Regions from separate parts of the Homo sapiens genome. Here all the other regions are linked to region 1. Evidence: fine-mapped expression QTL. A gene starts in region 1. Each other region holds a variant in brackets. All regions are shown on one strand. Distances are from middle to middle. Region 1 holds the start of ZNF839 (zinc finger protein 839). Region 2 has its middle 16 kb from the start of HSP90AA1. Region 3 has its middle 22 kb from the start of DYNC1H1.

What was found.
Region 2: its variant is fine-mapped to the expression of ZNF839 in whole blood (TOPMed, PIP above 0.99).
Region 3: its variant is fine-mapped to the expression of ZNF839 in whole blood (TOPMed, PIP above 0.99).

The regions. Positions count from the first base shown.
Region 1 is chr14:102,315,120-102,325,937 of GRCh38, forward strand. It overlaps ZNF839 (zinc finger protein 839), which reads left to right and starts at 4,627. Exons shown (of 8, transcript NM_018335.6): 1 at 4,627-4,934. The coding sequence starts at 4,647. It overlaps TRI-AAT5-4 (tRNA-Ile (anticodon AAT) 5-4), which reads left to right and starts at 1,973; the gene lies at 1,973-2,046. RefSeq lists enhancers at 1,663-1,762, 5,137-5,246 and silencers at 4,687-4,786, 4,847-5,036.
Region 2 is chr14:102,066,021-102,076,838 of GRCh38, forward strand. No RefSeq gene overlaps it. Among named protein-coding and RNA genes, the nearest start is that of HSP90AA1, 16 kb to the right of the region's middle. The variant G/A (reference allele first, on the strand shown) is at 4,520.
Region 3 is chr14:101,936,793-101,947,610 of GRCh38, forward strand. No RefSeq gene overlaps it. Among named protein-coding and RNA genes, the nearest start is that of DYNC1H1, 22 kb to the right of the region's middle. RefSeq lists enhancers at 8,164-8,825, 8,826-9,485, 10,808-10,818. The variant G/T (reference allele first, on the strand shown) is at 4,928.

The DNA of each region.
Region 1 (10,818 bases):
GTGAGCAGAGAAATGACTTGATCTGACTGTTTTAAACCCATGTGACTCTTACCTATTGCTATGCCAGAGAGTGTGCTAGGTTCTGGGCATTCATTCAGCTGTAAGCAAAATGGACAGGATGCCTGCACCCCCACCAGTGCTCTGTGAGAGGGCTTTACCCCTTTGGCCTGCTCATCTATCCTTGTCCTTTGGACACAGTAAAGTGCTCCAGACTTCAGGACGCTTGCCCAGCCTCCCAGCACACCACCTAATCTTCTCCGTTCCCTATAATATCCGCCTTCCTTGTTATGCGGAGAGCTCCATCAGGATGGGGATTAGGTTTCTTTGACTCACAGCTGATTGGGGGCCAGGGCACTGCCGGGCTGAATGAGTATGTCTTCACTGAGTGTCCGTTTTTCTAAACCTGGTCCTCTAGCCTTACTCGTGGAGGGTGACCTACCTAACATCCTTTACATAAAATCTTTTCGAATCAGCTAGACTCGGTTTCTGCTGCTTGTGACATAGAACCCTGACGATACCTCAGTCCAAGCAGTTTAGTGGAGTAATCAGAGCAGAATGTATAATGTTAAAAAGCTGGCCCGATGCGGTGGCTCACGCCTGTAATCCTAGCACTCTGGGAGGCCGAGGCAGGCGGATCACTTGAGGTCAGGAGCTCGAGACCAGCCTGGCCAACATGGTGAAACCCCATCTCTACTAAAAATACACACACACACACACACACACACACACACACACACACACACACACAAAGTAACCGGACAAGGCGCGTGCCTGTAGTCCCAGCTACTTGGGAGGCTGAGGCAGGAGAATCGCTTGAACCCAGGAAGCAGAGGTTGCAGTGAGCTGAGATTGCACCACTGGACTCCAGCCTGGGTGACAGAGCGAGACTCTGTCTCAAAAAAAAAAAAGCTGGTGCTCCTGGAGTGGGAGGGCCACGCAGCACACCATAGTCAGGCCCTGTAGGAGAACAGTAGGCCTCTGGGACATGCAGGCTGGGTGGTGGACACGGTGGTGGTTTGTCTTCCCAGCCTTTTCTTTCTCTCTCTCTTTTTTTGCATACAGATCCTACGCTTTTAGGGGTGGGTACCATCGTTGCCTACTCAGTGGCTGTTTCAACCCTTCTGCCTGTACCATGTGATTTATTTATGTGCTCAGTTAACAAGAGAGAGAGCAAAATGAAAACATTTTTACAGACACTAAAAAAAAAAAAAAAAAAAAAAGGAGAAAGCCATGGTGGTTTGTCCACTCAATGAAACACTGAGAAATCATTTAAAGTGACATTTGCAATTGTTTAGGGATATGCTTATTCTAGAATATTAAATGCAAAAAGAAAGATAAAAAATAGACTGCTTCATTGAGCCGAAATCTCGCCACTGCACTCCAGCCTGGGCGACAGAGGGAGATTCCGTCTCAAAAAAAAGACTGCTTCATACAAGGCTTTGGATTCCGTGTGTGTGTGTGTGTGTGTGTGTGTGTATAAATACACGTGTACTGTAGGAAAAAAAACCAGCAGGAAGGAAGCCAAGACCCCAGCGGCCCTTGTTTATTGGGCGATAGGGAATTCGGTGGTTCTTTTGTCCGGTTTTCTGTATTTTCCAAGCTTGATTTAACCATGCTAAAGGCCTCTGTTACACGAAGTTTCCACGCTGCAGGATTCTCGGAGATAAAAACAACACTGAGTTGGCATGTTTGAAAACCTTCTCACTGCGGAGCTAAGCCTCCCATGTGCAATTTGCATTTTTCCTGTGAAAAAAAGCCGCCTTCGCTGTAGGGAGTCGCCTCCCTTCTCCTTGAAGTCCCCTAAGTCTTAGTTTCTGCATCGGGCCAATGGGGATGACTGTGAAGAGGTCGGAAGTCGCGGCTGTGGCGAAGCGGAATGCAGCCAGCGGCGCCGGCCCGGCAGGGAGTCGCTAGGGGGCGGGCGCGGGCTTGGAGCCCTCTTAGGCGCTCCCGTGGGGGCCCAACGTCAGGCGGCCGGTTAGCTCAGTTGGTTAGAGCGTGGTGCTAATAACGCCAAGGTCGCGGGTTCGATCCCCGTACGGGCCAGGCTAACTTTTTTTTTTTTTTTTTGGTCCCCGCAATGTTCCTTTCTGATACTGTAACCGGCGTGCAGGCAGGAGAGAACTGCGGAATCTTTTGGACTGGCCCAGAGGTTATCCAAGGCTACCTGCTGGGGAGAGCGGGAGGAACTCAGAGCGCGCTGGGGCGGTGGCTCCTCACCCCGAGTCCCCGCGCCGCCACCTGAAGGGTCTGTTTTAGAATGCCATTGGTTAGGCCTTTTACTTTTGTCGTTTTAAAGGACACTCTGGACATCCAACCGATGCACATCCCACGCCCCCACCCCCCACGTTTCCTGAGGCTGCGTCTGGCCTGGAGGAACCGCCCAGTGAAGACAGGTGCTCGCAGATATCACCGCCTAGTGTTCCCTGGGCCCACTTGCGGGGAAGTCTTGGAGGTGAAAATCCAGGTCTGGAATGAATGCATTCCACAGATGCATATGGAGAGCTACTGCATGCCCAGCACCATTCCTAGGCTGGGAGCAAAACGGTGAGACACAAACCCCAACCCGCTGGAGACAGTGACCAGCCACTAGATGACTGCCATGTTTTTAGTGAGGCATTCAGGTTGTGGAAGCCTCTGGAAACCTTCTCTTGCTTTTTGTCCCCCCTCTTTTCTTTTCGGAGACATCTTAGGCTTCACATTTCTTCCTCTTGGTTCTACATTTTGAAGCCAGAGCAAGTGGATGAATTTCTCACTCGGTTCGTTTCTAGGGTGGTCAGGTGTGCTCAGCTGAACAAAAGCCGGTTGTATAAGGTTGATGCCATTTTATGTCAGGATCCGGCAAGGGCTCCACCTGTTTTTGAAAATTCTACAGTGGAAACAGCTACTAGTTCTGACCTAAATAAGAAGCAGCTCAACATCTACAGACCTTGGTATGTGCCCAGGGTGTAGTAAAAGTTCTCAATAAATGCCAGCCGATGGCGCTGCTGCTATTATAAGCAAAGTTAGGAGAGCCTGGGGCAGCTGACACTTAAAATAGACATCTGTACACAGGATGGATGTCACATCTTTTAATAGTCGTGCCAGGCACGTTGTTAGATGCAGGGACACAGCATGGAGGAATCGGTGGAGGTTGCTGCCCTCAAGTTTCCTGAGCTTGAAGGGGTTTAGAATATGCCACGGTGGCATGAAAATTATTTTGAGCAGAAGGCATGTGAATTCCTGAAATCTGGTCGGGTGTGGTGGCTCACACCTGTAATCTCAGCACTTGGGAAGGCCGAGGCGGGCGGATCACCTAAGGTCAGGGTTTCAAGACCAGCCTTACCAACATGATGAAACCCCGTCTCTACTAAAAATACAAAAATTAGCCAGGCATGGTGGCGGACGCCTGTAATCCCAGCTACTCAAGAGGCTGAGGCAGGAGAACCGCATGAACCCAGGCGATGGAGGTTGCGGTGAGCTGAGATTGTGCCACTGCACTCCAGCCTGGGTGACAGAGTGAGATCTTGTCTCAAAAAAAAAAAAAAATTGTGGTAAGATACCCATAATATAAAATTCACCATTAAAAAATAACACGGAAGGGATCATCGTGAATGCAATGTGAGTATTGATGAGGATGGTGGTGATCTTCCAGAACCTTCTCTGACGCCACCCAGGCCGCCAGCCTTACTTTACCGGCTTCGGCGCTCATCATACTGTGCTGCAAATGCCAGTTTCCTCCTTCCCCCTTGGGAAGTTTCCTCCTTGGGGGTCGGCACCTAGACTGTATACCCCCCAGGGCGGAAACAGCGGTTCACCCACCAGGTGCTTAAGAAGGGTTTGTGGACCAGTGGACCTCCTGCTCTCCCTGGGGAAAGGAGCTGGGACATGTGTACACACCTGCAGCTACAAGATTCGGAGGGCGCACAGAGCCTCAACCGTAAGAAGGAGAGGCGATCAGGCTGAGGAAGATGGGGCAGTGGAGCTGGATGGATAGAGAGAGGGTGGGTTCATTCATTCGTTCACTCATTCGTTTATTCATATTCATCCATCCATCATTCATGCCCTGAGCGTGCGTTGTGTTCTGGGCAGGGCCTGTGCTGGGCACCGATTGTGTAATATATCATCTCTCCCTTCAAGGTGCACCCAATCTGGGTGGGTGGGTAGAGAGAAGCTACGGTGACAAGGCAAAAATTTGGGAAACACTCTCGTTAACAATTCAAACTGTGGTCCCCTCCCAGATGTATAAATCCAAATGTTTAGGGGTGGGCACAGTACTCTGCATCTCCAGACAGCATCCTCCGCTGATTCGGATGCATGATGACGTCAGAACACTTGGATATTGTGGTAACTTTTGGGCCAGGGGCTCTGAAACCCCGAAGACCTCCCCCTGGGAGATCCGGGACAGCTCCCAGAGAAGGTGAGTCTTAAACACATCCGTGACAGGCAATAAGGAAAATAAGGGGGGTCCGCTCTGCTGATCAGCCCTAAGAGCCGCGGCGGTTGTCGGCTGGGGCGGGGCACTCCACGACTTTCCCGGCCAGACACGGTCGCCTTCCTAGGTGTCTTGGCCTGCGAGGCACTCGTAGCCCGCCCCTCTCCTAGGTGACGTACATTGGAGACGCCGTCGCTCAGCGACCCGGGTTCGAGTCCCCGCCTCGGCCGCCATGGCGGATGCGGAGCCGGAGGCTGGGGGCGGCAGCGAGGATGGCGGCGGCGGCGGCGGCCCGGCTCCTCCGGGCCAGAGCGGCAGCGTCGCACGTGTGGCCCCGCTGGGCCCCGAGCAGCTGCGGCAGGTCCTGGAGCAGGTGACGAAGGCGCAGCCGCCGCCGCCGCCGCCCCCCTTCGTGCTGCGGGACGCGGCGCGGCGGCTGCGGGACGCGGCCCAACAGGCCGCCCTGCAGCGGGGCCGGGGCACCGAGCCCCCGCGCCTGCCGCGCCTGCTCCCGCCCCAGGTGAGGCGTCGGGAGGGACGTGGGGAAACTGAGGCCCGAAGGGGGCCGACGCCCCGCGGCGGGGTAGCTGCTTGTCCGGGGAGGCCAGTATCCGCCCGGGTTAAGACTCAGGGCGTCCCCAGGCTGAGCTTCTTAGGGACGGCGTTCGGCCCCCACCTGTCACCACCCTGGCATTTTCACCCCAGGAGCCTCACTCTAGGAGCGGTTGCTCACGCTGGGCCCTGTGCCTGGAACGCCCTCGTGCCTTCTCTGCCTTCACAGCCCTGCTGGGGGCTTTTGCGTGCTCCCTAGCTCTTCTTACAGGCCTTTCACCGCTGGTTCAGCCTTTGTGGAGCACTTAGAGACCGTGTTCCCAGCACTCCCCACTATGTGCAGGAGGTGAAGCCTTGAACACACTTGCTGAAGAACGAACATAAGGCAGGTTCTGGGATTGACGGGGGCTGCTTTAGAGTGGGTGGTCCCGTAGGCCAGACACTGGAGCTGAAACATAAATGAATTAAAAGGAACCAACTTAGCTTTTCAGTTGTAAGGTGCCAAGGCCCAGGCTTGGAACAAAGTCAAGCACAATACACTAGTTCGCTGCAGGACTTAACATCCTGGGTGATAGTGACTGATTTGTAACCGCAGTACCCAGCACAGTGCCTGATACACAATGTTTGGAATATGTGAAAGCACTCTGTATACTACAAAACATCCTTTCCCAGTGGGTTTATTTCCTGGGCCACACACCTTTTGGTTGCTAGGGGGGTGATAACTAGAAGACGGTCGCCCAACTCCGGAGGGTGAAGCATAGCGCCTGAAGCCAGAGGGCCTACACGGCATCTGTAAAATTCCACCCCATTTCAGCGCTGGGGTTGTAAACAAAATTAGTCTCACCCCAAAATTGCCAAAAGAAGACAGCTTTTTCCACTAGAAGAAACGGGTTAGGGAATAGAATCAGGAACCTTCACTCGTTGAGTTTTTTTGACTGATGTTAGCTGCTTAGGGTTGTATCCAGTTAATCATCAAGACTGGAGAGTTGTCTTGCTAAGGTTTAGGAAGACCAGTGTGATTCTGTCCAGATGCCACACTATCACTATCTAGAGGTGTGACCTTGGGTAAGTCAACCTTTTTGGACTTTGGTCTGGGTCAGAAGGCTGCAAGGTGCCATCTGGGGGCAGCTATCTGCAAAGCCTCTGCTCTGCGCCCGGCGCTGTGCGGGGCCGCTCAGTTTTCAGCAGTGTTTTTGTACCGGCATTTTGCAGGTGGGAAACAAGCTCAGGGAGGTTGCGTGGCTTTGCCCAAGGTCCCTCAGGTGTGGCTGCTCTCCCTAGCCCCTGTACTCCTCACCATACCCTGCTGAATATGGCCACAGCTTTTTGGGTTTGGAATCCAAAAATGACATATTTTTCGTAAAGCAAAAGCAAACTTATTCGAGCTTAGGCAGCATGATGGGATTGTATTTTGTAGCTAATCTAATGGAGACGATATAAATTCTACCTGCAATAATATACCTTTGCAGCACATTCTTTTAATACTCTTTCAGCCCCAGCTGTGTCATGGAGGCCACAAAGGCAAACCGGATGCGTACTTTGCCCCTCAGTAGTTTATGAACTAACAGGAGATGAAACAAGACCCAGATAACTTCTAGTCAAGGCCAGAAAGCTAAAGATAGTGAAAAAGAACTGAATGTATTTAGAGAAAGGGAGATTGTTCCTGGCTGAGGACATCAGAAGCAGCTTTGTTGAAGAAGTGGTATCTGAACTAGATTTGAAAGGGTGCGTCTGAGTTGAAAATGCAGAAGGGGAGAGGCAGGTTCTGGGGCGGTTGGGGGTGCATTTCAACAACCACAGCAGAAGGCCCAGTGTTCGCTGTGGGGGTGGTGTGGATCAGCAGCACAGACCAATGGACACACTTGGGTCAGATCGAGGCCCCTGTCTCTCCCCATCCTCCCTCTTCCCCACCCCACAGAAATTTCCAGTTCCATCCAACATGCTGTGCCCCTTTTCATGCATCCGTGCATTTACACATGGATGTGTGCCCTTTTTCACCTGGCAAAAATTCCCAGCCTTCAAAATGCCCCTCAGAGATCACAGCTTCTGGGCAGCCCACCACCTCTGGGCTGTTCCTGCCTCTTGATTGCACCTGTTGTACCATGATGACATTTTTCCTGTCTGCCTCACCTGTCTGCATTCCTTAGGGAAGCTTGTCTGCCTTCAGAATCATCAGTGGAGCTTTTGAAAGGGCAGATCTTGGGGCCTCACCCCAGGAGATCCGATTCAGCAGGTCTGCGGGGACTGAGGTATGGCAGGGGAAACCGCCCCCATCTCAAGGGTGAGGTTAGGACTTGGCTCCTGTGTATGTATTCCACCCAGAAATACTGAGTTAACATTAGCTGAATTAACTAAACAAAGTATCAAGCATAATACCCACAGGGTAAGCCAGTGAGGATAGAGGATAAATACATTATTAGTCTGGCTTTGCCGCTGTGGTTATCCTCAAACAGTAGGGTTTAGTGTATGTATGTATATGTATTATGTTTTTGTTTTGGGGTTTTGTTGAGACAGGGTCTTTCTTTCTCACCCAGGCTGGACTGATCTCGGCTCACTACAGCCTCGAACTCCCAGGCTCAAATGATCCTCACACCTCAGCCTCCCGAGTAGCTGGGGCTACATGTATGCACCATCATGCCTGGCTAATTTAAAAATGTTTTGTAGAGACAGGGTCCCGCTATGTTACCCAGGCTGGCCCTGAACTCCTGGCCTCAAGCAGTCCTCCCGCCTCAGCATCCCAAAGCACTGCGATTACAGGTGTGACTGGCAGTAAAATGAAAGAGATGGGGTTCTTGAAGGATATGCGCAGTCAATCTCGTTGTCATTTGTTTCACAAGTAGCCCAGGAGTCGGGGACTCCCAGGGCTATGGTGCCACCTCTCTACAATTCTTCATACAAAGTGTTGGCTGACCTCTGCTATTTGTACTAGTATAACAGACAGACGAGAGACACACTCCAGCTTGATCTCAGTGAGGATCTTTATTCTGTCCTGTGTGACATTTTTGTTGATGCTCCACTGTTTGAGGGTCACACCAGAAGGTTGAGTCCAAAGAGGGCCAGTTGGTCGTCCCAAATAAGTGATTCTCAACCGAGGGCAGTTTTGCCCCACAGGGGGCACTTGGCAATGTCTTCATTGTCAGGACTCGGGATCACTACTGGCATCTAGTGGGTAGAGGCAGAGATGCTGCTGGCCATCCTCCAGCCACCCATGTCAAAGGATTATGTTCTGAAATGTTGGTTGGGAAATCGTGCTCTGGATGATGAGGTTTGCCTCTTTTTCTCCCTGGAGGAAAGTGCTCATTATTTCTGCTCTGTGAGGGCGGGAGCCTTGTTTCTTTTGCTTCCCCGTCCTTCTCCCCTAAGCTGTAAGACAGCTGTTTCCCTGACACCTGTAACAGTGTTTCTGGCACGCGGTCAGTGCTCAATAAATATTTGTGGGGTGTTATTGAAGGTAGTTCTCCCCTTTGGTAGGTGTTTTGCTATTATAGACAGTGCTGCCCTGAACTTCGTAGAACAGAACATCTTTGTGGCCACCTGCGTGTTTTTTTTATAGAATCCAGGAAATGGAATTACTGGGTCAAAAAGCACATGTATTTGAAATTTTGTTAGATATATTTGTAAAAAGTTATTGAAGATACTCAGCCCTACGCCTAGGTACATGCCCCTGGAGAAAGTCACACATGTATACACATACATCGTGAAGATTCAGAGCAGAACTTAGGAACAGAAGGTTGGAAACCACCTGTCCATCAATAGGAGACTGGTGTACTCATACTGCAGAGAAAATGAACCCGTGACACCTACCCATGTTAATGTGGATAAAATTCACGAAGCAAAATGAAGTAAAGAAACCCAGAAAAGCCCTTTCAAGTTGCAGGAGATGATATCATTTATATAAAGTTTAAAAACATTTCAGAACTGAACTATATATTTTTAGAAATATCTGCATATGCCACATAAATTTTTAAAATCATAAGAATGCTAAACAGCACATTCAGGACAGGGTGAAGAAACAGGCATGCAGGTTGTGCAGTAGGAAGCTGGGTAACATTGTTCCTTATGGCTTTGTTGTCGCTTCCAGAATTTCATTAAAAACTTTTTAAAAAACATGGGCCCACATTATGAATTACGTCTGCTTTTAGAGTACTAAAAACTCCAAGCAAAAACACATGGGTAACGCCGGGCACGGTGGTTCATGCCTGTAATCTCAGCACTTTGGGAGGCTGAGGCGGACAGATCATGAGGTCAGGAGTTTGAGACCACCCTGACCAACATGGTGAAACCCCGTCTCTACTAAAAATACAAAAATTAGCCAGGTGTGGTGGCAAGCGCCTGTAATCAGGGCTACTCAGGAGGCTGAGGCAGGAGAATTGCTTGAACCTGAGAGGCAGAGGTTGCACTGAGCTGAGATAGCGCCACTGCATTCCAGCCTGGACCACAGAGCGAGACTTCATCTTAAAAAAAAATTAGCTGGTCATGGTGGCACACACCTGTGATCCCAGCTATTCAGTAGGCTGAGGCAGGAGAATCATTTGAACCTGGGAAGTGGAGGTTGTGGTGGCACTCCAGCCTGGGCGACAGAACGAGACTCCATCTCAAAAAAACAAACAAACAAAAAGCCAGCCGGGTGTGGTGAGGCAGGTGGATCGCCAGAGGTCAGGATTTCGAGACCAGCCTGAATGGTGAAACCCTGTCTCTACTAAAAATACAAAAATTAGCCGGGGCGTGGTGGTACGTGCCTGTAATCCCAGATACTTGGGAGACTGAGGCAGGAAAATTGCTTGAACTCGGGAGGCGGAGGTCGCAGTGAGCCAAGATAGTGTCGCTCCACTCCAGCCTGGGCGACAGAGCAAGGGTCCGTCTCAAAAGAAAAAGAAAAACCTCACATGGGTAAAACTGTTAGGAAGGCTCTTATCTCTTCACTGGTCATGAAATCAACTTAGTGGATTATGACTAGTATTTTTTAAAAAGTGATGTAGAATAGGGCTGGGCGTGGTGTCTCACGCTGGAAATCCCAGCACTTCGGGAGGCCAAGGCAGGTGGATCAATCACTTGACGTCAGGAATTTGAGACCAGCCTGGCCAACATGGTGAAACCCGTCTCTACCAAAAAATACAAAAATTAGCTGGGTGTGGTGGCAGCTACTCCGGAGGCTGAGATGAGAGAATCGCTGAAACTGGGAGGCAGAGGTTACAGTGAACTGAGATCGCACCACTGCACTCTAGCCTGGGTGACAGAGTGAGACCCTAATCTCAGAAAAAAAAAAAAAAAATGATGTAGAATAGATACAATCAGCGGGCATTTATATAGGGATGGTAAGTAGTTCCATCAACTTTATTTTATTTATGTATGCAGATATTTATATACACGTGTACTAGGTCATAATGTAAAATGTATCATTGTGGTCTCTGTTTTTGTTTTTGTTTTTTTCAGATGGAGTCTCACTCTGTTGCCCAGGCTGGAGTGCAGTGGTGCGATCTCAGCTTACTGCAACCTCCTCCCGGGTTCAAGCGATTCTCATGCCTCAGCCTCCTGAGTAGCTGGGACTACAGGAGTGCATCACCACGCCCAGCTCATTTTTGTATTTTTAGTAGAGATGGGGTTTCACCATGTTGGCCAGGTTGGTCTCGAACTCCTGACCTCAAGTAATCGGCCTGCCTTGGCCTCCCAAAGTGCTGGGATTACAAGTGTGAGCCACCAAGCCCAGCTTATATCACTGTGGTCTCTGGTCAGAAAGGTCTGGAAAATACCACCTTAGTACAAACACATTACATCAACTTTTATATGTAAGATGTAATTTAGAAAAAATGTCAATAATGGTTTTATGACGAGACTGAAATTGCAGACATGTT
Region 2 (10,818 bases), 250 kb before region 1:
CCTCTTGGATGGGATGTCCATTTTGTTCCCAGAGTGATCACCCAGGAGTTAAGGGTGGCGGGGGTCCTGCGGTCCAGCCTGTATGATGTTGCTGTCTCCACGGCAACCCAGCACGGAAGGGCCCCGCCAGCCCGCCCAGGACCTCCCCCGCAGGCCCCGCTGCTCCTCCATCCCCCTGCCTGTTCCCTGCCAGCCCTGCCCATAGCCCAGGCCCCAGTAAGGCTCCTCAGATTCCTCCTGTCCGCCCTGGGCCCACTCTGGGCTCCACTCACTGCCAGAGAGGCCTCTGTGAGGTCGTGATTATGCCACAAAACTTTGGGGAATTCCCCTATGCCCTAGGATGACATCCAAATCCTTTAACATGGCCACAAGGGCCCACGCTGCCCCGGCCACCCAGCAACCCCCTTTTCAGTCCCTATCTGAGAACCTTTCACCCCAAGGCTGCAGCGACTCCCACCTCCTCTCATTCCTGGGAGGCACCAAGCCACCTTTCCTTCCAGCCACCCACAGCTCTTTCTTTTGCCAAAAATGCTCCCTTCACCCTCATCCCTGGCCCTGACTTAACCTTTGGGTTTGACACCTCCTCCAGGGAGCGTTCCTTGACCTCTCAAGTCTTTGTTAGGATCCAGCCAACCCCTCTGCACTACCACAGTAGGCCAGACCAGCCTGTGTAGAAAGTATCTGTTGATTTCTTTCTTTCTTTCTTTTTTTTTTTTTGAGACAGAGTCTCACTCTGTCGCCCAGGCTGGAGTGCAATGGCGCTATCTCGGCTCACTGCAACCTCCACCTCCCAGGTTCAAGCAATTCTCTCCTCCCTCAGCCTCCCAAGTAGCTGAGACTACTACATGCGTGCGCCACCACACCTGGCTAATTTTCTGTATTTTAGTAGAGACGGGGTTTCACCATTTGCCCAGGGTGGTCTCAAACTCCTGAGCTCAAATGAGCCACCTGCCTTGGCCTCCCAAAGTGCTAGGATTACAGGCATGAGCTACTGTGCTCTGCTGTGTCGGTTGAATTCTATGATGTTACTATACTGTCACCCTCTGAGCCTAGAAATTCTGAACCCTCAGCTCCTTAAGCACCTAGTGCAGTGTCTGGCACAGTAACCTTCAAAAAAATTTTTGAACGAATAATAAAAGGAATCAGTGAACTGAATCTGCCACAAGTCATGTTAGCTGCTCAGTTTTTTTTCTTTTTTCTTATATTTTTTTTTTGTTGTTGTTGTTTTTTGAGACAGAGTCTTGCACTGTCGCCCGGGCTGGAGTGCAGTGGTGCAATCTTGGCTCACTGCAAGCTCCGCCTCCCAGGTTCAAGTGATTCTCCTGCCTCAGCCCCCTGAGTAGCTGGGATTACAGGAGCCCGCCACCACCCCCAGCTATTTTTTTTTATTTTTAGTAGAGACAAGGTTTCACTATGTTGGCCAGGCTGGTCTCGAACTCCTGACCTCGGGATCTGCCTGCCTCAGCCTCTCAAAGTGCTAGGATTACAGGTGTGAGCCACCAGGCCTGGCCTCACTTTTTTTTTCTTAGTAATGTTTGAAGTCAGGAAGTGTGAGTCTTACTACTTTGTCCTTTTTCAAGATTGGCTTTTCTGGGTTCCTTAACATTTTCTTTTCCTTTTTTTTTTTTTTTTTTGAGACAGAGTTTTACTCTGTCACCCAGGCTAGAGTGCAGTGGTGCGATCTCGGCTCACTGCAACCTGCACCTCCCAGGTTTAAGCAATTCCCCTGCCTCAGCCTCCTGAGTAGCTGGGATTACAGGTGCCCGCCACTGCACCCATCTAATTTTCGTATTTTTTAGTAGAGACAGGGTTTCACCATCTTGGCCAGGCTGGTCTCAAACTCCTGACCTCATGATCCACCTGCCTTGACCTCCCAAAGTGCTGTGATTACAGGCGTGAGCCACCATGCCTGCTTCATTTTCATATAAACTTTATAACCAGCTTGTCAGTTTCTGCACAAAAATGCCAGCTTTTTTTTTTTTTTTTTTTTTTTTTTTTTTTGAGATGGAGTCTTGCTCTGTCACCCAGGCTGGAGTGCAGTGGCGTGATCTCGGCTCACTGCAAGCTCTGCCTCCCGGGTTCACGCCATTCTCCTGCCTCAGCCTCCCGAGTAGCTGGGACTACAGGCGCCCGCCACCACACCCGGCTAATTTTTTGTATTTTTAGTAGAGACGGGGTTTCAGTGTGTTAGCCAGGATGGTCTCAATCTCCTGACCTCGTGATCCGCCCACCTTGGCCTCCCAAAGTGCTGGGAAATTGTTAATAGGGATTGGGTTGCATCTGTGGATCAGTTTGGGTGGTATTGCTTATCTCCACAACATTAAGCCTTCCGATCCATGAACATGGTATGTCTTTCCATTTTAGTTTGTCTTTAATTTCAACAATGTTTTGTAGTTTTCAATACACAGTATAAAAAGTCTTGCATTCCTTTTGTTAATTTTATTTATTTATTATTATTATTATTACTTTTTCTTTGAGACCCACTGTGTCACCCAGGCTGGACAGTGAGTAATCCTAGCTCACTGCAGCCTTGACCTCCTAAGTTCAAGCAATCCTCCCACCTTGGCCTCCCAAAGTGCTGGAATTACAGGCATGAGCAACCAAGCCTGACCTAATTTTATTTTTAAATCTTTTATTCTTTTTGGTGCTATTGCAAATAAAAATGTTTCTTTATTTTCAGATCACTCATTGTTAATGTATAAAAATACAATTGATATTTATATATTAATCTTGTATTTTTTTTTTTTTTTAGTAGAGACAGGGGTCTCACTATGTTACCCAGGTTGCTCTTGAACTCCTAGGCTCAAGTGATCCTCCCACCTTGGCCTCCCAAAGTGCTGGGATTACAGGTATGAGCCATCATGCTCGGCCAATCTTGTATCCTAAAATCTTGCTGAACTCATTAGTTCTATAGATTTGTGTGTTTGTAATCCTTAGGAGTTTTTATATACAAGATCATGTCATTTACAAATGCAGATACTTTTTACATTTTCCTGTCCAATCAGGATATCAGGATGTCTTTTCTTTTTCATGACTAATTGCCCCTGGTTAGAACCTCCAGTACAGTGTTAACTAGAAATGACAAAAATGAACATCTTGACTTGTCCTTGTTCACTCACTTAATCGTACATTTAATTATAGTACCAAGTGCCTTGAATATGTCTGAGTGCAGAGATGTAGTAGGGAAAATACTTATGGGTGAAATGGTACAATGAAATCTCAGAATTGCCTCAGAATGACTTGGAGAAAGAAAGAAGGGTGCATTGAGTGTGGATGGGTGGGAATGGCCATGGCCAGTTGGCTGGTTGTTGGGGATGGTGATGGTCACTAAGGTTTCATACTATTCTGTCTGCTTTTGTGTACTTTTTTTTTTTGAGACAGAGTGTTGCTCTGCTGCCCAGGCTGGAGTGCAGTGGCACGATCTCTGCTCACTGCAACCTCCATCTCCCAGGTTCAAGCGATTTTCCTGCCTCAGCCTCCCAAGTAGCTGGGATTACAGGCACCCGCCACCACACCCAGCTAATTTTGTATTTTTAGTAGAGACAGGGTTTCACCAGGTCGGCCAGGTTGGTCTCGACTCCCAACCTCAAGTGATTCGCCTGCCTTGGCCTCCCAAAATGCTAGGATTACAGGCATGAGCCACCATGCCCGGCAACAAGAGTTGTTTAAATGGCACTTATTTGTGGAAGACACCAAGCCAAATATCCCACACATCTGGATTTGTCCGCCTGCTTCCTCAGAGTGTCATTTAGCACGTCCCTTTATCCCCTTATTTCCTATTAACTCAAATTACCAAGATAGTCTCCTGTTTTGAGACATGTAGATATTTTCAAATTCCCCTGCTACAGGGTTGTGGAGAACATTCTTGTACCTTTCTCCCGGTGCAAGTGGAAAGACTTTCTCTAGCACGTACCAGGAAGTACTCAGGGTGAGTTCTCCCACTCCATCAGATGTGCCAAATTGCCCTCCAGATTAACTGTATTGATCTGTACCCCCATCAGGTCACATGAGAGACCCCATTTTCAGACCATAGCCAACATTTGGTACTGTCCTCCTTTAATTTCTGCCATTCCTGATGGGTGTAAAATGCATCTTCTTACACTCACTTTCCCTTTCATGACTTGCAGTGCGGTTGGGCATCTTCTCTTACGTGTGTTGCCCTTCCAGGCTAAGGAAGGAGACTGAGACAGCAGAAACCACAGGATTCAGGAACTGCTTAGAAATGGTACCAACTGGTTTTATTAAAAGGGAAAGTGTTTGGCCAGGAGCGGTAGCTCACGCCTGTAATCCCAGCACTTTGGGAGGCCAAGGCAGGCGGATCATGAGGTCAAGAGACGGAGACCATCCTGGCCAACATGGTGAAACCTCTAAAACTTCTACTAAAAATACAAAAACTAGCTGGGCGTGGTGGCGCACACCTGTAGTCCCAGCTACTTGGGAGGCTGAGGCAGGAGAATCTCTTGAACTTGGGAGGCGAAGATTGTAGTAAGGTGAGATCACACCACTGCACTCCAGCCTA[G/A]TGACAGAGAGACTCCACCTTAAAAAAAAAAAAAAAAAAAGGGAAATTGTTGCCAGCCGTGGTGGTGCGCACCTGGAATGCCAGCTACTCAGGAGACTGAGGCAGGAGGACTGCTTGAGCCCCAGAGTTTGAGTCCAGCCTGGGCAACATAATGAGGCCCTGTCTCAAAAAAAACCGCACAAAATAAGCAGGGGGTGGAGGGCAAAATAGCATACTTTTCTATATCCACCACAAATGCATTCAGATGTTAAATGTTTTATTGATTTTCATTCTAATGTGTTTTCTGTTATTTTTATTTTTTAGTAGAGATGGGGTTTTACCACATTGCTCGGGGCTGGTCTTAAACTCCTAACCTCAAATGATCCACCCACCTCAGCCTCCCAAAATGCTGAGATTACAGGTGTGAACCACTGCGCGCGGCCTGTTTCTTGTTTTTTGAATTTTTTTTTTTTTTGAGATAGAGTCTCACTCTGTCACCCAGGCTGGAGTGCAGTGGTGCGATCTTGGATCACTGCAACCTCCACCTCCCGGGTTCACACCATTCTCCTGCCTCAGCCTCCCAAGTAGCTGGAACTACAGGCGCCCACCACCATGCCTGGCCAATTTTTTGTATTTTTAGTAGAGATGGGGTTTCACCGTGTTAGCCAGGATGGTCTCGATCTCCTGACCTTGTGATCCACCCGCCTTGGTCTCCCAGAGTGCTGGGATTACAGGCGTGAGCCACCGCGCCCAGCCTGTTTTTTGAATTTTAACCTGGCATTAAAAAAACAAGAGTGCTTCTTTTTGGACTGCATTTCGAGTTCTGGAACTTTCATTGATCAAGTGTTGAGGCCTAAAACGCTTTCATAAGAAGATGATTGATGTTCCAAGCAAAAACGTACACTTGGCAGATAGCGTGTTCAGCTCACTTGCTCTGCACTAACATAATGGCATCTTTGTTCAGATTTTGGTGGTGCTATTAATACACCGTGACTCATTAAAAGCCCCACTTCCTGGAATGTTCTTCTCAGGGAGGTGATGTGACATTCCCTCCTATGGAGGAAGAATCTATAATCACACTTTCAAAGTCTTGAGCAGATCTTGAAGGCTTAGCAAAGGGAACAAAAGCTTCCTAAATTATACAGAATTATTTAAACAAATTGTCATCCCCACAGGAAGGGGGAAAACATCATTTGTACATACCACTTCTTCACTCAGGCCACAAATACGTATCAGGTGTTTGCCACATGCACCAATTTAGCAGTGAACACTCACGCCTTCCCTCCTGGGCTGACAGGCAGCAGAGAGACAGGAAGACTGACCTGAAACGAATGGTCATTTCCTTATAGTTGCATAATGCTACAAAGAAAGGTAGAAGACGCAAGGAGAGTGTATGCGGGGCTTATGTTATGTCAGGAAAATATTTTCTGAGACCAGATAATGGAAGGATTATCTGGGGCCAGATAGTGGAAGAGTGGAAGGATTTAGCCTGGTGTGGGGGGACATGGAGACCATCTCAGGCAATTGGTGGCTTACCGGGTACAGAGTTGTTGTTGGGGGAATGAAAAAGTTTTGGAAATAGTAATGATAGTTGCATAATGTTGTGAAGGTAGTTAATGCACTGGACTGTACACTTAAAAATGGTTTACAATGGTCAGTTTTATGTTACAGGCCGGGTGTGGTGGCTCACGCCCATAACCCCAGCACTTTGGGAGGCCAAGGTGGGCAGGACACGAGGTCAGAAGTTCGAGACCAGCCTGGCCAATATAGCAAAACCCTGTCTCCACTAAAAGTACAAAAATTAGCCGGGCGTGGTGGCAGGTGCCCATAATCCCAGCTACTTGGGAGGCTGAAGAAGGAGAATCACTTGAACCTGGGAGGCGGAGGTTACAGTGAGCCGAGGATCGCACCACTGCACTCCAGCCTGGGCGACAAAGCAAGACTCTGTATCAAAAAAAAAAAAAGTTACATATATTTTACCACAATAAAAAAAATACAAAAAAGCTGGGCGCGGTGGCTCACACCTGTAATCCCAGCACTTTAGGAGGCTGAAGTGGGTGGATCACGAGGTCAGGAGTTTGAGACCACCCTGGCCAACATGGTGAAACCCTGTCTACTAAAAATACAAAAATTAGCCGAGCAGGGTGGCTGGCGCCTGTAATCCCAGCTACTTGGGAGGCTGAGCCAGGAGAATCACTTGAACCTGGGAGGCAGAGGTTGCAGTGAGCTGAGATCACGCCATTGCACTCCAGCCTACGCAACAAGAGCAAAACTCTGTCTCAAAAAAAAAAAAAAAAAAAAAAAAAGAGAAAGAGAAATCATTCCAGGCAGAGGAGCTCTGTTGTCTGGTGTGTGAGGTCTTAGAAAGAGACGTCAGTTTTTTTTTTCTTTTTCTTTTTTCTTTTTTTTGAGACAGAGTCTTGCTCTATGCCCAGGCTGGAGTGCAGTGGTGTGATCTCGGCTCACTGCAACCTCCACCTCCCAGGTTCAAGTGATGCTCCTGCCTCAGCCTCCTGAGTAGCTGGGATTACAGGCACCTGCCACCATGCCCAGCTAACTTTTGTATTTTAGTAGAGATGGGGTTTCACCATGTTGGTCAGGCTGGTCTTGAACTCCTGACCTCAGGTGATCCACCCACCTCGGCCTCCCAAAGTGCTGGGATTACAGGCATGAGCCACTGCAGCGGTCTGTCAGTTTTGAGTTGCCCAGCGCTGAATCCCCCTCCTACATTCTGGGGACTCCCCAACCTCACGAGGCCAGATGGGAGGAAAAGGCCATGAAAAGACCAGACACCGGTTTTCCCAGCCTCTCTTGCAGCTAGGACACAGGCTAGGCTCAGCCAATCACATTTTGAATGGGGTGTTTAAATGGGGCAGCTGGTGTGGGGAAAAGCCAGGGTCCAGGGACAATCTATTTTGGAAGCGGGTAGGGGAAGATATAGTCTGTCTACCTCTTACTTGCTGTGTGACCACTCTGATCTTCAGTTTCCTCATCTATCAAAAGGAATTGATAAACGATACCTTCTTCGTAAGATTCTAGACTCAAATGAGACCTCATTAATGTAATTGTTGCAGCTGACTGGTGGGCACCTGTCGGTTCATAAAACAATTCCTGACCAGGTGCAGTGGCTCATGCCTGTAATCCCAGCACTTTGGGAGGCCGAGGTGGGTGGATCACCTGCCATGCTGGTCAGGAGTTCAAGACCAGCCTGGGCAACATGGAAAAACCCCATCTCTACTAAAAACACAAAAAATTAGCCAGGTGTGGTGGCAGTGCTTGTAATCCCAGCTACTTGGGAGTTTGAGGCAGGAGAATAACTTGAATCCCAGAGGCAGAGGTTGTAGTGAGCCAAGGTCACGCCACTGCACTCTAGCCAGGGCGACAGAGTGAGACTCTGTCTCCAAAAATAAATAAATAAATAAATAAACAAAACAAAATATACATAACATGAAGTTTACCATTTTAACCTTTTTTTTTTTTTGAGACAGTGTCTGGCTCTGTTGCCCAGGCTGGAGTGCAGTGGCGTGATCTCAGCTCATTGCAAGCTCCGCCTCCCAGGTTCACACCACTCTCCTGCCTCAGCCTCCTGCGTAGCTGGGACTACAGGCGCCTGCCACCACACTCAGCTAATTTTTTTGTACTTTTAGTAGAGACGGGGTTTCACCTTGTTAGCCAGGATGGTCTCGATCTCCTGACCTCGTGATCCGCCCGCCTCGGCCTCCCAAAGTGCTGGGATTACAGGTGTGAGCCACCGCACCCTGCCCATTTTAACCATTTTTAAGTCTGCAGTTCAGTGGTGGAGATATCCACATTATTGTACAAACATCATCACCATCCATCTTCAGAACTTTTTCATCTTCCCAAATGAAAACTGTTCCCATTAAATGCTAACTCTCCCTTCCCTCCTCCCCAAGCTTGGGCAACCAGCATTCTACTTCCTGTCTCTCTGAATTTGCCTACTCTAGGTACCTGAGGTAAGTGGAATCATACAGTGTGTGTCCTTCTGTGACTGGCTTATTTCACTTAGTACAATGTCTTTAAGGTTCATCCATGTCGTAGCATGTGTCAGAATTTTCTTCCTTTTTAAGCCTGAATAATATTCCATTGTATGCATAGACCACATTTTGTTTATCCGTTCATCTTGAGTAAATCCCAAGGAGTGGAATCCCTGGATCATGTGGCAATGCTATGTTTAACATTTTGAGGAACAGCCAGACTGTTTTCCAAAACAGTATCATTTTACATTCCTACCAGCAGTGTACCTATGAGGGTTCCAATTTTCCACATCCTTGCCAACATTTGTTATTATCTATCTGCTTCTATTTTGTATGTTTTGGAAATCTCCCAAATAAATAGTTTATAAAAAAGAGAAAATTAGCCAGGCGTGGTGAAGTACGCCTGTGGTCCTAGCTACTCAGGAGGCTGAGGCACAAGAGTTGCTTGAACCTGGAAGGTGGAGGTTGTGGTGAGCCAAGATGGTGCCACTGCACTCCAGCCTGGGTGACAGAACGAGACTCAGTCTCAAAAAAAAAAAAAAAAAAAAAAAAAAAAAAAAATTAGAAACTGTAAGTGAAAGTGTAAACTATGAAGTGCTTAGGTTAATTTGTTATTTGTTAGCATAGATTTGTGTGCCTGTCATGTGCCAGACACTGTTATGAGTATTTGGGATACAAACATAAGCAAAACACACACACATCTGTAGTCTTAAACTCAAGACTGGGCCTATCTGCTCCTCCAGAACCCCTTCCCTGGAAGCAGAGCTGAGCCTAGGACATCCATCCCACTCCCCAGGCCCTGCCCAGCTCTTGGGCATTTGGGAGGTGTCGGGGTGCAGGAGTAGAAGTCTGATGCCTGCACCGCAGCCCTGGCCTCCCTTAGCCCAGAGAGCCCTGCGTGTTCTCCACTTCCAGAGCTTGTTTTTCTTATCTATAAAATAAAGTGGGGCCGGGTGCAATGCCTCATACCTGTAATCCCAGAACTTTGGGAGGCTGAGGCAGGAGGATTGCTTGAGTCCAGGTGTTCAAGACCAGCCTGGGTAATACGATGAGACCCCACCCCCACCCCCCACCCCATCTCTACAAAAAATACAAAAATTAGTAATTAGCCGGGCATGGTGGCACGTGCCTGTAGTCTCAGCTGCTTGGGAGGCTGATTTGGGAGGATCGCTTGAGCCTGGAAGGTCAAGGCTGCGGTGAGCTGAGCTTGTACCACTGCACTCCAGCCCAGGCAACAGAGCCAGACCCTGTCTCAAATAATAAAATATAAAATAAAATAAGGCAGGTATGGTGGCTCACACCTGTAATCCCAGCACTTTGGGAGGTGGAGGTAGGCAGATCCCTTGAAGTCAAGAGTTCAAGACCAGCCTGGCCAATATGGTGAAACCCTGTCTCTACTAAAAATACAAAAATTAGCTGGGTGTGGTGGCACATGCTTGTAATCCCAGCTTCTTGGGAGGCTGAGGCGCGACGACTGCTTGCATCTGAGAGTCAGAGGTTGCAGTGAGCCAAGATTGTGCCACTGCACTCCAGCCTAGGCAACAGAACGAGACTCTGTCTCAAAAACAAAACAAAGCCGGGCGCGGTGGCTCATGCCTGTAATCCCAGCACTTTGGGAGGCCAAGGCGGGTGGATCACAAGGTCAGGAGATCGAGACCATCCTGGCTAACACGGTGAAACCCCGTCTCTACTAAAAATACAAAAAATTAGCCGGGTGTGGTGGTGGGCGCTTGTAGTCCCAGCTACTCAGGAGGTTGAGGCAGGAGAATGGCATGAACCCAGGAGACGGAACTTGCAGTGAGCCGAGATCGCACCACTGCACTCCAGCCTGGGCGACAGAGTGAGACTCTGTCTCAAATAAATAAATAAATAAATAAATAAATAAATAAATAAATAAATAAATAAAATATAATAAATAAAATGAAAGCTGGAATATGGGCCCACCTGGTATGAAGATGAGACAATTTCGGCCAGGCATGATGGCTTACACCTGTAATCCCAGCACTTTGGGAGGCCGAGGCAGGCAGATCATGAGGTCAGGAGATCAAGACCATCCTGGCTAACACGGTGAAACCCTGTCTCTACTAAAAATACAAAAAATTAGCCGGGTGTGGTGGCGGGAACCCGTAGTCCCAGCTACTCAGGAGGCTGAGGCAGGAGAATGGTGTGAACCCAGGAGGTGGAGCTTGCAGTGAGCTGAGATTGCGCCACTGCACTCCAGCCTGGGCGACAGAGCGAGACTCCGTCTCAAAAAAAAAAAAAAAAAAAAAAAAAAGATGAGACAATTTCGTGAAAGGAGAAGGAAAAGCGGACTTAGCCAGCTGC
Region 3 (10,818 bases), 380 kb before region 1:
AAACCCTGTCTCTACTAAAAAAAATACAAAAATTAGGTCGGGCGCTGTGGCTCACACCTGTAATCCCAGCACTCTGGGAGGTTAAGGCGGGCGGATCACAAAGTCAAGAGATCGAGACCATCCTGGCCAACATGGTGAAACCCCATCTCTACTAAAAATACAAAAATTAGACGGGCGTGGTGGCGGGCACCTGTAGTCCCAGCTACTCGGGAGGCTGAGGTGGGAGAATCACTTGAACCCGGGAGGCGGGGGTTTCAGTGAGCTGAGATTGTGCCACTGCACTCCAGCCTGGGCAACAGGGCAAGACTCCATCTCAAAAAACAAACAAACAAACAAAAATTAACCAGACATGGTGGTGTGCACCTGTAATCCCAGCTACTTGGGAGGCTGAGGCAGGAGAATCACTTGAACCCGGGAGGCGGAGGTTGCAGTAAGCCAAGATCGTGCCACTGCACTCCAGCATGGGCAACAGAGCAAGACTCTGTCTCAAGAAAAAAAAAAAAAAAAAAAAAAAAAAAAAAGCTAAATTTCTCAAGATACTTGAGAAAAGATCTTTGGAATCATCTTCAGTCTGCCATACACGATGTACCAGAAATGCTCAGTCATTTATAGCCACACGTTTTCTATTTTTCACAAAGTGCCCTAGAATAAATAAATAAGAAGTGGCCAAGCTTGGTGGCTCACGCTTGTAATCCTAACACTTTAGGAGGCCGAGGTGGGTCGATTGCTTGAGGCCAGGAGTTCAAGACCAACCTGGCCAACATGGCAAGGCCCTGTCTCTTTAAATAAAAAAATATATATATATATATTTTTTTTTAAAAAAGAAGTACCCATGTTTTCCACAAGTTGACCTTGAAAAACTAGGGTGTAAAAAGTCAAATCTGGCTGGACACGGTGGCCCATGCCTGTAATCCCAGCACTTTGGGAGGCCAAGATGGGCAGATCCCCTTGAGCCCAGGAATTCAAGACCAGCCTGGGCAACATGGTGAAACCCTGTATCTACAAAAAAAATAAAAATTAGCCAAATATGGTGGCACACACCTGTAGTCCCAGCTACTCAGGAGGCTGAGGTGGGAGGATCACCTGAGCCTGGGAATTCAAGGCTGCAGTGAGCCAAGATTGCGCCACTGCACTCCAGCCTAGGCAACAGAGTGAGAACTTGTCTCAAAAAAATAAAAAATAAAATCCAACCCCCTTGGGTGAGGATTTGACCCAAATGAAGACAGTGAAAAGAATTTCGATCAACAGGTATCTGTGGGGTGGCACATGCGGGCACTGGGGCCTCAGTATGCCCTGGACAGCATCACCCTCTGGGTAGACAGAGTGGACGCCCACAGCATAGAGGGGTCAGTGCTGGCAGCATGGGCCACACTTGCCCACCCCCTCCCAGCCCAGTCCCTGAGATCTTCTTCACCCAGGAACTGACACCACCACCCAGCAGACTCATCAAGCCAGAAACCCGGAGGTTGGCCATGATTCCTCCCTTCCTAGGATTCTTAGATCCTAGAGATTGCACCTTAGCCCAGCCTTGCTCTCCCACCCCAGCCCTGCCCCTTCCCTAGTCTGCAGTGACAGCTTTCTCTCCAGAACGTGTTAAAATAGAGATCACGTCGCCCTCTTGCTTAAAACCCTCGAGTGGCTTCACATGGCACTTAAATAAAGCCTGAGCCCTCCCCATGCTGACCTCTGCAGCCATGGCCAGCTGTGCTCCCACTGGTCCATCACTGGTTTCTGCTTCTCACCCACCAACCTCCTTCCCGCCCCAGTGCCTTTGCACACGCTGTCACTGTCACTTCCTACTTCTAGCCCCCGAAGTGGCGGGGCTGACTGTTTTCAACCTGCAGGTCTAAAATGCAATGGTTTCTCTCGAAAGGGGCCTTCTCTGACCACTGTCCTGAAATTGGGAACCCCCCATCCCCTTACTCTCTGTCAGGGCACCCCATTTTCATCAGAGCCCTGGTACAATTTGTCATTTCATTTATTTCTTAGTAAAGTGCCTCCACTACAAGGCAAGGAGCTCATCTGCTTTTTCTTGGAGGTGTCTCCAGTGCCCAGCTCCATCCCCAGTGCAGACGGGACAGCTTGCTCAGCTTGTGAAGTGAATGAGGTGTGAAGAGCAGGATGCACATACGCAGTGACTGTGCCTGAAGAGGGCAGAGCCGTGGGAGAACACTCGCTCATCCCAATGTCTGTGGACCGTGCCAATAACGGCGGTGAACCCAATGCAGATGCCCCTGCTTCCATGTCCTGAGACAGTCCAGCAAGTCAGGTTCCATGGCAGGAAGCCAGCACCGCAGTGGGGAGAGGTTAGGGCACTGCAGGGAGGCTTCCCACTGGGCTTCCCCCAATGAAAGTGGAGAATGTCCCAAGCAAGAGGACCCGTGCAAAGACCCGAAGATGAGGGGGGCTGGAAGATTTGCCAGGGTTTGGCTCACAGAGTAGCAAAGAAAAACAAGGAAAAACTACTTATGACAATTATATACATACAGAAGGCTTCACAGGTAAATCAAATCTATCCATCCAACCTTTTTTTTTTTTTTTAAGATGGAGTCTCGCCCTGTCGCCCAGGCTGGAGTGCAGTGGCGCAATCTGGGCTCACTGCAACCTCCGCCTCCCGGGTTCACACCATTCTCTTGCCTCAGCCTCCCGAGTAGCTGGGGCTGCAGGCACCTGCCACCACGCCCGGCTAATTTTTTTTGTATTTTTAGTAGAGATGGGGTTTCACTGTGTTAGCCAGGATGGTCTCGATCTCCTGACCTCGTGATCTGCCCGCCTCAGCCTCCCAAAGTGCTGGGATTACAGGTGTGAGCCACCGCGCCCGGCCAATTTTTTGTATTTTTAGTAGAGACAGGGTTTCACCATGTTGGCCAGGCTGATCTTGAAATCCTGACCTCAGGTGATCTGCCTGCCTCAGCAGGCAGATAGAAAAAATATTTTTTTACAAAAGTAAAATAAAAAAAGAAACGTAATCCCCAGTGCAACAGTGCTGGGAAGTGTAGCCTTTGGGAGGTGACTGAGTCATAAGGGCTCTGCTCTCATGAGTGGGATTTGATGACCTTATAAAAGGGCTTGATGGAGACAGTCTGACTCTTTTCACCCCTTTGCCACGTGAGCACACAGAGTTCATCCCTTCAGGAGTGCACAGCAGTCAAGACACCATCTTGGAAGGTGGGGCCAGGCCCTCACCAGACAACAAATCTGCTGGTGCCCTGATCTTGCACTTCCAGCCTCCAGAACTGGGAGCAATAAAGGTCTGTTCTTTTTTTTTTTTTTTTTTCTGGAGACAGAGTCCCACTCTGTCGCCCAGGCTGGAGTGCAGTGGCGCATCTCTCTGCTCACCACAACCTCCGCCTCCCAGGTTCAAGTGATTCTCCTGCCTCAGCCTCCCAAGTAGCTGGGATTACAGGCATGCGCCACCATGCCCGGCCAATTTTTGTATTTTTAGTAGAGACGAAGTTTCACCAGGTTGGCCAGGATGGTCTCGATCTCTTGACCTCGTGATCTGCCCATCTCAGCCTCCCAAAGTGCTGGGATTACAGGCGTGAGCCACCACACCTGGCCAAAGTTCTCTTCTTTATAAATGACCCTATCTGTGGTATTTTGTTATAGCAGCACAAATGGACTAAGACAGACTGTCAAGGACACTAGAGACAATGTGAGGCTGAGGGGCTGTTCCTGACAGGAGGCTGACGAGTCATGGCAAGGAAGTGCCATGCACATTCTGGATAGAGAATAGGACAGAAGGGAAAGAAGACTTTGCGGGTATCTGGTGAAATGGAATGGAGTCTGATGTTGATTCACTTTTGTTTTGTTTTGTCTTAAGGCAGAGTCTCGCTCTGTCACCAAGCTGGAGTGCAGTGGCACAATCTCGGCTCACTGTAACCTCCGCCTCCTGGGTTCAAGTGATCCTCCCACCTCAGCCTCCTGAGTAGCTGGGATTACAGGTGCATGCCACCATGCCTGGCTAATTTTTGTATTTTTAGTAGAGACAGGGTTTCACCATGTTGGCCAGGCTGGTCTCAAACTCCTGGCCTCAGGCAACCTGTCCACCTCGGCCTCCCAAAGTGCTGGGATTACAGGCGTGAGCCACCGCGCCCAGCCAGATTCACATTGTTTTTAACAGTGTTGATTTCCTGACACAAGGTCCATAAGAAGGTCAAGTAGGAGAGGGTTCCTGTTTGTGGAGGTATACTCGGGGAATCAGGGCTGCTGGGGCATCAGACCAGATAAAGACAATATATGCATATGTCTATAAGAGAGAAGGTGGGCCTGGCGAGGTGGCTCACCCCTGTAATCCCAACACTTTGGGAGGTCAAGGCAGGCGGATCACGAGGTCAAGAGATCGAGACCATCCTGGCCAACATGGTGAAACCCCGTCTCTACTAAAAATACAAAAAAAAAAAAAAATTTGCTGGGCGTGGTGGTGCACGCCTGTAGCCCCAGCTACTCCGGAGGCTGAGGCAGAAGGATCACTTGAACCTGGGAGGTGCCACTGCACTCCAGCCTGGGTGACAGAGCAAGACCCTGTCTCAAAAAAAAAGGATAATCACATAAGAGACATTTTGGTGATTAGGGAACAGAAACAGAGCCCTGCTGTAGAGGACTGGTCAGAAGAGGAGATTTTATTTTTATTTTTATTTATTTTTATTTATTATACTTTAAGTTCTAGGGTACATGTGCACAACATGCAGGTTTGTTACACGTGTATACATGTGCCATGTTGGTGTGCTGCACCCATTAACTCGTCATTTACATTAGGTATATCTCCTAATGCTATCCCTCTCCCCTCCCCCCATCCCACGACAGGCCCCGGTGTGTGATGTTCCCCACCCTGTGTCCAGTTGTTCTCATTGTCCAATTCCCACCTATAAGTGAGAATATGTGGTGTTTGGTTTTCTGTCCTTGTGACAGTTTGCTCAGAATGATG[G/T]TTTCCAGCTTCATCCATGTCCCCACAAAGGACATGAACTCATCCTTTGTTATGGCTGCATAGTATTCCATGGTGTATATGTGCCACATTTTCTTAATCCAGTCTATCATTGATGGATATTTGGGTTGGTTCCCAGTCTTTGCTATTGTGAATAGTGCCGCAATAAACATATGTGTGCAAGACTAATAAAGAAGAAAAGAGAGAAGAATCAAATAGATGCAATAAAAAATGATAAAGGGGATATCACCACCGATCCCACAGAAATACAAACTACCATCAGAGAATACTATAAACACCTCTACGCAAATAAACTAGAAAATCTAGAAGAAATGGATAAATTCCTGGACACATACACCCTCCCAAGACTAAACCAGGAAGAAGTTGAATCCCTGAATAGACCAATAACAGGCTCTGAAATTGAGGCAATAATTAATAGCCTACCAATCAAAAAAAGTCCAGGACCAGACGGATTCACAGCCAAATTCTACCAGAGGTACAAAGACGAGCTGGTACCATTCCTTCAGAAACTATTCCAATCAATAGAAAAAGAGGGAATCCTCCCTAACTCATTTTATGAGGCCAGCATCATCCTGATACCAAAGCCTGGCAGAGACACAACAAAAAAGAGAATTTTAGAAGAGGATATCTTAAAAGAAAGCAAACACTGGAACATATCTGTGTGTGATGGGGACAAGCCCATGCAGTGTTTATGAAGGGGACGGGCAACTCGAAGCCAGAGCTCAAGGGAGGGTTGGTCTTAAACAGGAGCAGAGAATCCATTTTAACAGAAGGCAAAAAAAAAAAAAAAAAGATTTAAGGAGCAAATGCAGGTAAATATATAGATTTGGGGTGGGTTGGATTAAGGAGTTGCCCTCTGATACCCTCGAGTTTCTCCGCAAAGTATGAATGTTCAAGTGAAGATTTGATCAAGAATTTAAAGTGAAACCAGTGGCATGCTTCTCTGTGGCCACACTGGGGTAGGGAGGCTGGGGGAATGGAAGACCCAGAACTGCTGCCCACCTGTGTGTGCCCCCTTCCCCAGGACTGAGGTTTTCCTCAGTGACTGGCACCATTTGCCCTGTACATGTCCTTTCAAGGGAGACTATGGGTGATGACCCAGAATTGACAAGAGGTAACTGGCATTTCTCCTTCTAAAGGGATGCTGGGGGAACTTTGTTTCCTCCTACAGCACCTCCCCGGGAAAGCATCCCTCTAAACTGTGACGAGGCATGAAACAGGTAATTACCATAATATTCAACAGAGCTGTGACAACGAAAAGTCCCAAACTCTGGGGGGACCCACATCTGTACAACTTTCTAGCTCAGGCGGGCTCTAGGGAGGAGTTTCTTTTCTTTCTTTTTAATTTTTTTTTTTTTTTTTGAGATGGAGTCTCACTCTGTCACCCAGGCTGGAGTGCAGTGGCGTGATCTCTGCTCACTGCATTCTTCTGCCTCAGCCTCCCGAGTAGCTGGGACTACAGGTGCCCACCACCACGCCCGGCTAATTTTTTGTGTTTTTAGTAGAGACGGGGTTTCACAGTGTCAGCCAGGATGGTCTCAATCTCCTGACCTCATGATTTGCCTGCCTTGGCCTTCCAAAGTGCTGGGATTACAGGCGTGAGCCAACGCGCCCAGCCAAGTTTCTTTTCTTTTTATGAGACGGGTCTCACTCTGTCACCCAGGCTGGAGTGCAGTGGCACGATCCTGGCTCCATGCAACCTCCGCCTCCCTGGTCCAAGCGATCCTCCCACCTCAGCCTCTTGTGTGGAGGGACTACAGGCACACACCACCAGGCACAGCTAATTTTTATATTTGTTGTAAAGACATGGTCTTTGCCATGTTGCCCAGGCTGGTCTCAAACTCCTCAGCTCAATCGATCCGCCCTCTTTGGCCTCCCAAAGTGCTGGGATTACAGGTGTGAGCCACTGCACCCAGCCAAGAAGAGTTTCTTGATGTCAGAGTGGAGTTGCAATTTCAGCTCCATTTGCCTCTCAGTGGTCTCATCCGTGGAAAGGAGATAATAATTCCCAAGACTAAACCAGGAAGAAGTTGAATCCCTGAATAGACCAATAACAGGCTCTGAACTTGAGGCAATAATTAATAGCCTACCAACCAAAAAAAGTATGTCTTCAGGAGGATCATGTAAAGCAGGCAGAGGAAGCTCAGCAGATGACACCTGCTGTCATTAATATCATTGTCCTATCCCCATTTCACACTGAGAAAAAGGCTCTGAGAGGGAAAGGGGTCCACTGAAATTAGCAGCCCTGGCTGGGCACCGTGGTTCATGCCTGTAATCCCAGCACTTTGGGAGGCCGAGGAGGGCAGATCACCGGAGGTCAGGAGTTCGAGACCACCCTGACCAACATGGAGAAACCCTGTCTCTACTAAAAATACAAAAAATTAGCCAGGCATGGTGGCACATGCCTGTAATCCCAGCTACTTGGGAGGCTGAGGCAGGAGAATCACTTGAACCTGGGAAGCGGAGGTTGCAGTGAGCCGAGATCACGCCATTGCACTCCAGCCTGGGCAACCAGAGCCAAAAAAAAAAAGAGGCTGAGCGCGGTGGCTCACACCTATAACCCCAGCTCTTAGGGAGGCAGAGGCGGGAGAATAGCTTGAGCCTAGGAGTTCGAGACCTGCCTGGGCAATATAGCAAGACCCCGTTCTCCACAAAAAGGAAAAAAAAAAGACAAAATAAAAAAAGAAATTAGCAGCCCTGGTGGGACAAGAGATTCCAATGGTAGTGGGGAAGATGGGAGGAAAGAGCATTTTAGTTTATTGTTGATGGCTACGCAGATTTGTACAACTCTTTGGAAGGGTAATTAGGTAATGTTTAAAATGTTTAAAATGCTAAACATTTAAAATGTCTAAAATGTCATACCTTTTGACTCTGCAATTCTGCTTCTAGGAATTTAGCCACCAGCACTTGCACAAAAGAATGACAGCTACAAGCCCAAGAATGCTCATGACAGCATCATTCTCCATAATGAAAAAGACATAGAAGCCGTGAAGAAATTACTAAATGAATAAAAGTGCATCCTGGCCAGGCATGGTGGCTCACACCTGTAATCACGGCACTTTGGGAGGCCGAGGCAGGCGGATCACTTGAGGTCAGGAGTTCAAGATCAGCTTGGCCAACATGGTGAAACCCCATCTCTACCAAAAAAAAAAAAAAATACAAAAATTAGCCGGGTGTGGTGTCATGAACCTGTAGTCCCAGCTACTCGGGAGGCTGAGGCAGGAGAACTCCCTGAACCTGGGAGGTGGAGGGTGCAGTGAGCCAAGACTGTGCCATGGCACTCCAGCCTAGGCAACAGAGGGAGACTCCATCTCAAAAAAGGAAAAAAAAAAAAAGTGCACCCTGAGAACTGCAGACCTCTCAGCACATGACAACTCCATTCTAACCTCTGCACTAAGAGATGACCAAAGAGTAGCATGCTTCTAGAAGCACAAGTTCCTAGGATGATCCCAGCACCCCCGTTACAATGCCTGCCAGAGAAGCTCAATGATGCCAGAAGAATTTACTATTTGTTTTAGCCAACACCTAATGAAAGACTCCTGGGCCCTCCCTTTGAGCATTTACTAAAAATGGCTTGCAAATACGAATCCCGCCTCTATCCCTTTGAGATGTATATCTATCTCCTTCAGCTCAGGAGTGTCTTTCTTTAGGACCTGAAAGCCGTCCTTTTGAAATGTAATCATGAGGAAGGTTAGACTCCTCCAGTCTCTGTGGGAAGACAGAATCCTAACTTCTATAATTGACAGCTGGGCTAATCACATGACATTGACCAAGCCTTTGTGATTTTTCACTGGAGTCCCTTCTTTCGCAGGTATCCCCTTTGTTTCCTCCATCCCTCCTGCCTTCTTTCTTTCCCATTATCTTTCTCCCCTGTTTTAACCACTTGTAAATTCTCACCTACCTGAAGTGTTGCTAAGTTTTCTTTTTTTTTTTTTTTTGAGACGGAGTCTTGCTCTGTCGCTTAGGCTGGAGTGCAGTGGCGCGATCTCGGCTCACTGCAGCCTCCACCTCCTGGGTTCAAGCCATTCTCCTGCCTCAGCCTCCCGAGTAGCTGGGACTACAGGTGCCCGCCACCACGCCCGGCTAATTTTTTTGTATTTTAGTAGAGACGGGGTTTCACCGTGTTGCCCAGGCTGGTCTCCAACACCTGAGCTCAGGCAATCCGCCCACCTCGGCCTCCCAAAGTGCTGGGATTACAGGAGTGAGCCACCGCGCCCGGCTGACTGTTGCTAAATTTTAATCAGAGGTGGGAGGACCGTAAAGATTGAGTCTACCTCCCAATTTACAGATGGACAAATTGAGGCCCAGAAAGGTTCCCACACATGTTCAGAATTCTACATCCAGCCTCTGTTCTGGCTGTTCTCTTTCCGCCTCTGGCTGCCCAACTCCCTCCTGCCCTTGCACCCCTAACATTAACAGCCAGAGGGATCTTACAAAAACACCCATCTGATCCATTCCGAACACTGCCTAGCAACCACCATTCCGGAAATCAAATCGCTGCCCCGGCTACCTTCTCTCCTCTTGTGACAGGTCAAATCTTACCCAGGAGCCTTCCAACGTGCTATTTCACATCTTGCCCTGACTTGGCTTTTTTTTTTTTTTTTTTTTTTCCCCCGAGACAGAGTTGCGTCTTGCTCTGTCGCCCACGCTGGAGTACAGTGGCTCCATCTCGGTTCACTGCAACCTCCGCCTCTCGGGTTCAAGCGATTCTTCTCCCTCAGCCTCCCAAGTAGCTGGGATTACAGGCACCCGACACCACGCCCGACTAATTTTTGTGTTTTTAGTAGAAATGGGGTTTCACCATGTTGGCCAGGCTGGTTTTGAACTCCAGACCTCGTGACCCACCTGCCTCGGCCGCCCAAAGTGCTGGGATTACAGGCGTGAGCCACCGCGCCCAGCCCTGACCTAGCTATTGACTGCTTATCCTGGAGTCTAGGATCTCTCTGGTGCCAGATCTGAGACGCCCGCAGCCTCTCCCCTATCTCCAACCTGTCTCCCCCGCTAGATCGTGAGCTCTGTGGGAACATTGCCCAGGCTTGTCTTGTTCACCAACGTGCTTCCAGTGCCTGGCACTGTGCTCAACCCCTCCACGCCCTCGCTCAAACTCAATCGATGTTTGATAGAAAGATGAAGAGAGATTTGTTCGGTCAGAGAGAACAGCATGATGACAGAAGGAAGGCGTACAATCAAAAGCTGTGTGCAGGGCCAGGAGCGGTGGCTCACGTACTCCCAGCACTTTGGAAGGCCTAGGCGGGAGGATCACTTGAGCTCAGGAATTCAAGACCACCCTGGGCAACATGGCGAAACCCCGTCTCTACAAAAAATACAAAAACTAGGCCGGGCGCAGTGGCTCGCGCCTGTAATCCCAGCACTTTTAGGAGGCCGAGGCAGTCAGGAGTTCGAGACCAGCCTGGCCAACATGGTGAAACCCCGTTTCTACTAAAAATACAAAAATTAGCCGGGTGTGGTGGCGAGCGCCTATAATCCCAGCTACTCGGGAGGCTGAGGCAGGAAAATCGCTTGAACCTGGGAGGCGGAGGTTGCAGTAAGCCGAGATGGCGCCACTGCACTCCAGCCTGGGCGACAGAGCAAGACTCCGTCTCAAGAAAAAAAAAAAAAGAAAAAAACCACTAGCCGGGCGTGGTGACGCAGGCCTGTAGTCCCAGCTGTTCGGGAGGCTGAGGCAGGAGGGTCGCTTGAGCCCGTGAGCCGAGATCGCGCCACTGCACTCCAGCCTGGGCGACAGAGCGAGACCCTGTCTCAAAAATTAAATAAATAAATAAATAAATAAATAAAGGTGTGTGCAGGTAACAGCAAGTAGTCTTAAAAGAGTAGACCGAGGTGTGTGCAGAGGGCAACAGTTGGGATATTTG